2 linked regions of the Homo sapiens genome follow. The protein of the gene in region 1 purifies or fractionates together with the protein of each later gene. This does not show direct contact. Each region holds a gene or a part of one and is shown in the gene's direction. Other genes may lie near its edges.

Evidence for each region.
Region 2: the proteins of OR51E1 (region 1) and KIAA1549 purify together in Homo sapiens (affinity purification with mass spectrometry; one large-scale study listed by BioGRID and IntAct). This does not show direct contact.

What each region holds. Positions count from the first base shown.
Region 1 is NC_000011.10:4,642,639-4,647,031, forward strand, and holds the start of OR51E1 (olfactory receptor 51E1), read left to right. Parts: upstream 1-1,343; 5' UTR 1,344-1,392; intron 1,393-4,393. UniProt on the Homo sapiens protein: Odorant receptor.
Region 2 is NC_000007.14:138,834,702-138,838,515, reverse strand, and holds part of KIAA1549 (UPF0606 protein KIAA1549), read left to right. Parts: intron 1-355; coding exon 356-610; 3' UTR 611-3,814. UniProt on the Homo sapiens protein: May play a role in photoreceptor function.

The sequences.
Region 1 (4,393 bases):
GTCAATCTCCCTTCTGTTGCCGCATGGAAACTCCCTTAAGGCAGGAAGCTGAAAAAACTGTAGCATTCACCTCATTATTCACCTTGTCTCATGTCTCACTGTCCTTCCACATGTCTCATTGTTACTCCATATTGGATGGAAGTAGAAGTCCCTTTGGTATTTTTTAAAGTCTTTGCCATGTCTAAGTTAATGAGGTTAATGGAGGCAGCAGAGATGGCTCCAGGGTTCTGATAGCAAGTGTCAGGCTGCGTGCTCTGTAGGCACCAGAAACTGTTGTCACCAGTAATTTTGATGTGGTCTGAGTTAGAATGGTCTGATTTGCCATGATCTATTTAACATAGCTTGATTTAGCGTGTCCTGTGTTCTGAATTTAAAACTCACAGTTGTGAAACTGATCAGTAAAAAATAAGGGGAGACCAACTAAAAACCATGTTGTTCTATTTATAGATGTAGTTTTTACTTATTTCAAAATACGAGGTATTTAGTTTTACATTCAAATTGTTCTCTAACTCTCTAAAATGTTCTCTGACTATTTTTGCCCTTAAGGGAGAAACCAGATGTCATTGGTCTTACGTGGCTGGTGTTGGGGGTGGGGAGGGTTAAAGAAACCACGTTCTCTGTCCTCAGCCAGAAGTTCAGTAATCCAAGGCCAGAGAGTGGACGGCAGAGGCACTGTCCCTGGGGACCTTGGTTATAAGTTATCCAGACACAGGGACCAGAGCCTGGGAGACAAAAAAAGATGTAGCCCTAGGGCTTTGGGAAAAGGAGGATGGACCCAGTGAATTCCACGCTTAGCAAGGACCTAAACAGTGTCCCCCAAATGAGAGAAGGGAGGACAGAAAGAACACTTCAGGATGGAAATGGGCTGACACTTAACCGTGGAGTGTCTCTGCAAACTTCCTTTGCCATTCTCCTGTTTGAGTTTGATAAACCTGAGAAGAGACTTGGATAAAGACCGTCACGAAGACTACACTAATGAGTTTCTTCTAGCTTTTTTCTACTCACTTTCCCTATCTATCCTTCACATTGGGAGTTGGCATGAGGATCCCAGCAGCCCATCAGGGGAGGACTCTAGAGATCCCTTTCCCCATTGCCTCTCCTCCCCATACCCCCAGGCATATCCTCCCAGGGCACGGAAGCTGAGAAGCAGTCCAGAACCACAGTGGGCTAGTGAGGGGTACCTGCTGATGTACCCTTTGGACAGCATTCTGCCCCACCCTGCAGGAAGAAGCAGAAGGAGGGAGAGGGTGAGGCAGAGAATAAATAACCCTGACCAGGGAGGTCCAAGGGAGTAGGCGGAGACAGAGAGGCTGTATTTCAGTGCAGCCTGCCAGACCTCTTCTGGAGGAAGACTGGACAAAGGGGGTCACACATTCCTTCCATACGGTTGAGGTGAGTGCAGGAGGCCAGGGGCATGTCCAGGTGCATGGGTTACTTGCAGCTAGGGGTCTCCTGTTAGACTTGCTGAGTGCATGAGAAGCCAGGCTGTGAAGAACCAGAAGTGGGAGATGTGTAGGAAGCCCCTGACTCAAAGGACAGGCAGCCTTAGTGATCTCTAGGTTTGTGTGCTGAACAGAAAGCATGTGGGTGCTGGAGGTAGCCTAAGGGTAGTTTTCAAGCAGTTTTTCAGTGATTAGTTTACTAGTATGCCCATCTGGAGGCTGGCAGGGGCTGATGTGAATGAGGACAGAGGACAGAGGACAGGCTGGGCTGGGGTTAGACTGGGGCTGCATTGGGGTTGGGTCGGGGTTTGGTGTGTGAACAGGGTGAACGTGGTTGAAGCTCAGTCTATGACTGGGGATGAGGCTGCAGCTGGGGTGGAAGTGGGGCTCTGAGTGAGGTTGGTTTCACTGTATGCTGTACATCAGGAGTCAGGCTGTGGCTGAGACTGGGACTTAGTAATCTTCCTGGGGCTCCGATCTCAGCTTGGTCTGTGTCTAGGATCAGGATTCAGTCTTCAGCCCATTTAAAAAGTAGATTAGTGTCCACACGGCAACACCCCTTGCCTTGTACTCTTTACCCTAGCTACACTAAGTCACTTTCAGCTTTCCAAACAAGGTCTGTTCTCTTTCTCTCTGGCTCTTTGTATTAGCCAGGATGTATTTTTAAAAACAAACTAGATAAGTTCTGTTGCTGAAATTCCCCCAAGTCACTCAGAATTAAACCAAAGCTCCTTGCCATACCCTGCAAGACCCTGTTACCTGATGAGGTCCTTGCCTTCCTCCCGCCTCATCTTCTCAAACTCTGTTGTGCTCTTGATGCTCTGGCCACCTTGACCTTCCTTTTGTTCCATGAATCCCCCAATATCATTCTTGCTGGGGGACGCTTTTCTCTTGCTGTCTCCCACAGTTGGAATGCACTTTCCCTGGATCTTAGAATGGCTGGTGTTTTCTCATCACATGTCACATCCTTAAGAGAGGCTTTTTCTGACCCCTGTCTCCAGTATGAGTGTCCTGCACCCATCTTCCTCTGTCCTATCACTCTTTCTTTCGTGCCCTTATCTTCAACTGAAATTTTATTTGTTTACTTCTCATTATTGGCCTCGTGTTATATGAGCTCCATAAAAGCCATCATCTTGTCTGATTTATCTACTGTTTCATCTCCAGTTTTTGACACTCAATATGTTTTTGTTGTCTAACCGAATGCTGCTGTGCCCCACCCCATTAACTGCCTGTGTCACTGCCCCATTACCTGCCTGCAGCAGGTCCCGCCACTGCCATGGCTTAAATGTCACCTCCTCAGGGAAGCCCTTGGAACCTAAAAAGCTTGCTGAGCTATTGTTGTCTTTGCTTCTGAGGCCCTTTTGCTTCCCCTTGTCCCAGAATTTATCATAATGTGCTGTGATGGCTGCATATTTGTCTCAATTTCTCCCCATCCTTGGAAGGCTGGAACGATATCTCTGGTACTCAGTGGAGTCTGGCACAGAAGTCCGTCAATGATTATTGAAAAAATGAGTACACTGATCAAAATCCCACTTTGGGCATTTCCCTTGCCTTACATTTGCTTGCAGCCAGAATAGCTCTACAGGGAACTGGTAACTAGGTGCAGCTTTGCAGATCTTTAGAACACTTATCTGGTCCTACTCAGGAAGTGGAGGAGCAGAGACCTGAAACCTAGGAACTCTGCCTAGGGGTGATTTTAGGTGGTCAGGCTGACTTGAGTGACCAGGGTGGGGTGAGGGCTCACTTGGCTTTTTGGGAGTTAGAAGTTGCTCTCTCTCATCTTTCCATTTTCATCTTGGCCATTTTAAGAAGAGTGACCAACACCTTGCAAGGGTTCATCTGCTTTATTAAATACAAGCAAGGTGTGGGGCACAGTGGATGCAGATAATTTGAGTGGAAGTCATGCTGGGGCTACTACCCTCACTAAGTGTTAGGGAAGGGACTCTATTTAAGAATCAAGTGACAAGCTCCTCCAGTCCTTGCCAGCCACAGCATTGCCCCTGAGGTCTGCCTTCCCTCTCTGTGCCTGGGATGAGGAGCCAGAGGCTCCCAGGTATGTCTGGGCTTCTCTCCAGGGACATTCTTTTCTAAATATTCCCAGAGGCTGACAGCAGCGCCAGAGGCCCTCACTCCATTGCTCTGGGCATGAAACATTCTGTGTGTTTAGCCCAGATAGTGACACTGACAATGAATCTCCTCCTGGTTCTCCTTCCACACTGAACCTAAGTGGGGAGAGCTGGTCATGTGTCCTGAGTCCGAGAGGGGCCCCTGGACTCATGGGTCATCAGTGTTGGATTCCTGAGAGATTAATATTGAAATAGTGCTTACAAAGCGAAGTCCCTTCTTAAGGAGACATGGGGAGGGGTAGGGCAGTAGCTTGGCCTACTGTAAAGCAATGGATTTAGCACTAAGGGCTCTAACTAACCCTCAACATCCTTATCTGTCAAATGGGATTAATGATATCTGCTTGACAGGTGGATGAGAGGCTCTAATTAGATAATAAGGAAATACGTGGTAGAGGACAAGCCTTTTAATCTCCATTGTGGGGCCTACCCACCTCACAGCCTTTGGAGTTAGGGCTGAAAGAGGAGGTGAGTGTCCCAAGTTCCAGTGCAGAAGAGTCTTCTTTGCAGCCCTCTTGGTTTCCCTTCTAAGAGTATACCCAGGGCAGCTGTGCTACTTACCAAGCCCTTCTTATACCTTGCCTTTTGGGTGGATTTTATTAGCTTTCAGAAGGTGCAGCAAAATTAAAGGCAGCCTAGAATGAGGGAAAGTGTATAGGCCTTGGTATGAGACTATCTAGGTTAAGTTTCTGCATTACCAGTCACCTGTTAAACTTTGGTTATGTTATTTAATGTCTTGGAGCCTCAGTTTTCTCACCCATAATATAGAAAGGATCCATAGTATTCACCCATAATATAGAGAGGATCCATGGTGCAGCAAGAAGGGAT
Region 2 (3,814 bases), on another chromosome or scaffold:
GACAGGAGACAGACAGCAGCTAGATAAAGCAGAAGATGGTTGCGTAGGCTCCAGTCCAGGGCAGAGGCACCTGTTCCCCTTGTCAGCCTGGCATGGATCCGCTTAACCTCCTTCAGCTCTCAGATATCACCCGACCTTTCACATCATGGGGCACTCCAGCCTCCCTCCCTTCTGTTCTCCCCAGCCCCCTGGTGTCTTCACGCCTCACCTGCAGCATAGGCAGCAGGGCCCTGTTAGAGGGCTGAGTTGGTGGATGGACGTGGGCAGTCCTGGGAACCTTCCTAAAGCCAGTTTGCATTTGATGTTTCGGCTTATTCTTCGTAGGAAGTACAGTGACGTTTGCCATGTTTTTCAGACACACATGCTCGGACATCAAGAGTATTCTTCTTCACCGCTATTTCAGGTGCCAAGGACTTCAGGCAGGGAGCCCTCAGCTCCTTCCGGGAACCTCCCCCACCGGGGACTGCAGGGCCCTGGGCTGGGTTACCCCACCAGCTCCACGGAAGACCTCCAGCCTGGCCACTCCTCGGCCTCTCTCATCAAAGCAATCCGCGAGGAGCTCCTCCGGCTCTCCCAGAAACAGAGCACCGTGCAGAACTTCCACAGCTGATCGGCCTCGCCTCGCAGATTTGCCAAGTATCCGCTTCCTGTGGAAGCAAGACCAAAAGGAAATCAACTGAGTGGGTGTTTGGAAGAGGAAGGAGCAACTCTCGGGCAGCCTGCCCAAGGGAGGGAGCAAGTTGCAATTTAGAAGATGCCATACGTCGTGTGACAGCTCATGAGCCTTTCACTGGGCTGGCAATTGTCTGAACACTTGGGTTCAGTTGAAATATATGTATTTTGGCCAAAAGCCAGCAGCACTTCACAAAAACAAAACACAAACCTAAGCTAACAAAATGACTGCATTCGTCTCTTTTTTAAAGGTAGAGATTAAACTGTATAGACAGCATAGGGATGAAAGGAACCAAGCGTTTCTGTGGGATTGAGACTGGTACGTGTACGATGAACCTGCTGCTTTGTTTTCTGAGAAGAGGTTTGAAGACATTTTATTAACAGCTTAATTTTTCTCTTTTACTCCATAGGAACTTATTTTAATAGTAACATTAACAACAAGAATACTAAGACTGTTTGGGAATTTTAAAAAGCTACTAGTGAGAAACCAAATGATAGGTTGTAGAGCCTGATGACTCCAAACAAAGCCATCACCCGCATTCTTCCTCCTTCTTCTGGTGCTACAGCTCCAAGGGCCCTTCACCTTCATGTCTGAAATGGAACTTTGGCTTTTTCAGTGGAAGAATATGTTGAAGGTTTCATTTTGTTCTAGAAAAAAAAAATCCCTCCCAAAGTGGGGCAAAAAGCTTTATATTTATTTGATTATCCAAAATACAGATCAAAGTTTAGATCTACATTCTTCATTGTATTTGCTGTTTCTTAATTGGGCACACACAACTCCTGGTCATGTCCCAGTTCAGCACCGATCGCTAAGGCCGATCCTGTAGAATGCGGCTTTCAAGAGGTCCTAACTGATCCTTTCTTCCACTTTGCTGTTGATTTGTTCACAAATTATGTCTGAATGAGAAATCTTCTGTAAGCAGAAGTTATTTAATAATTCCCAGCACCACGAAATTGTTATACATACATCCCTACCAGTCACATTCCCTGTGTTCAGAGCCTGGAAATGAAATTGAGTTCAGTTCAGCCTCTCTGTAATGAATCAAGAAATGTAAAAGAGCTTTGAGACCCCAAGGGAAAGGAGAGAGTTGCTTCTCATTTCTGATTTTATTGTGCTGTTACTCTGTCGAGTGGCTATTAAAATTGTCTTATGCTCTTTGGGCTAAGAGGGGATCATCTCGCTTAAGATGTACTCCTGATGTAAACATTTCCCCCACTTTCCAAATAATGGTAAAGAAAACAGTGGCAAGGGCTGTTCTGTTTTCTGGTACCTGAGTGAAACTCAGAAGAAAAGCAGGCTTAGCTAAGAGATTTTCACTATTAACCTGTTTTTATTAGATCAGCGAAGACAGTCATGCATCGCTTAATGATGGGGATGCATTCTGAGAAATGTGTCATTAGGCTGTTTTGTTGCTGTGCCAACATCCTAGATTGTACTTACACAACCTACATGGTATAGCCTACTACACACCTGGGCTGTGTGGCATGGCCTATTCCTCTTAGGCTACAAACCTGTACAGCATGTTACTGTACTGAACACAATGGTAAGTATTTGTGTATCTAAACATAGCTAAACATAGAAAAGGTATGGTAAAAATACAATTTTATAATCTTATGGGACTACCATCAATATGTAGACCGTCATTGACCAAAACATCCTGATGTGTGCATGACTGTACTTTTCATTAAATAACAGATAAGGGGCTATAGAATTTGGGGCTCTGACTGATCAAAACCTGTGTATCTGTGTCAAGTTTTAAGACCCCTGAAACAGCTAAAACAGGTTTCCAAAGTGTAATCACTGGATTTCAAAACCATGTTTTAGCCCTTCATTAATGAAGCCTGTTGTACAGATTTAGAGTCTTACAATATGAGGGAAGTTGGTTCTGGGAAGGTAAGATGTAGCCAGTTTTCATCTGGGCACCTCTGAAAGAGAAGGAGTGCAGGAGAGTAAGTCTCTCAAGGACGTTCAACAAAGGACCAGCAGCATCTTATCAGGCGATCCTCAGAGGCTCCAAGGAGCATTGGAGAGAATGCCCCTTTCTGGGCTTGATGTCTTGGTTTTGGTTTAATACCAAATTTCTCTTGGTCTTGGTTTAATACCCGACTCCTCCCAAATTGAACGATTATCTTTGTATGTCACTCAAAAATACCAGGTTTCCTGAATATGTTATTAAGAATTTCAGATATCCAAGCAGAATTTTATTATGGACACCTTGTAATGAATTCAAATCGTGTGACAGCAAACGGGATAAATGGCCCCTTCTCACCCAGTTCCGCTCAGGGCCATACAGGCTTGCACATAGAGTGTGCTAAAAATGGTAACCTCCTTTGAGCATTGCAGAAAGAGGGTTCTGTTTCAAATTGGGCTGACCGTAAAAGCAATTTTGATGTCTTTCAAACTACCATAAAGGGATTTTAACTGTATTTTTATTCTTAGAAACAATACACCTTTAAACAGATGTCAAGACCAAAGATGATGTATAATAAACAGCCGGTGGTTATGGTGTGGTGTGAGCAGGCCCCCGGATCACCAGCCCTCTGCTGGTGGTCATAAAGCACACACAGTTTGTACTTGCTTCCTCTCGACGCCTGCCACAACAGTTTTGCCAGTCACCAAACTCAGAAAAAACTAGCTGTGTGAGCAGCACCGTACCCTAGCGGTCTTCAGACATTAAGTTCACGTCATCCACTGAAAGGAAGGGTCCTTGCGTTGACAGCGTGTGGCTTTGGAGTCCGTTTATGGAAGCACTCTACAATGAACAGTTGAATTTTATGTCTATTCTTTTTTCCTATTTTAAAAGTTCTAGTGGTAACACAAACTGTAAATTTGAGTCAGAATGTTTGGAGAAATGTTGTTTTTTTTTTTTTCAGAGACTACTTTGTCACTCACTGACCATGTCTGGTTCCTTCTCTGAACTTCATTCTCCCCATAAGCCAAACAAGAACAGACCTCCCCCGCCACCTCCCAGGCACCGTAGTTGTGAGAATCAGATGTGATCATGTGTGCAGATGTCCTGTGAGGAGGGAGCATAAAGCACTGTGAAAATGTAGCATGCTGTCTATGTGGACGCCCTAGGATGAGTGATGTGAAACGCTGCACTACTGCGGTGAATGGGTTCACACATGGGTAATGAGCAAA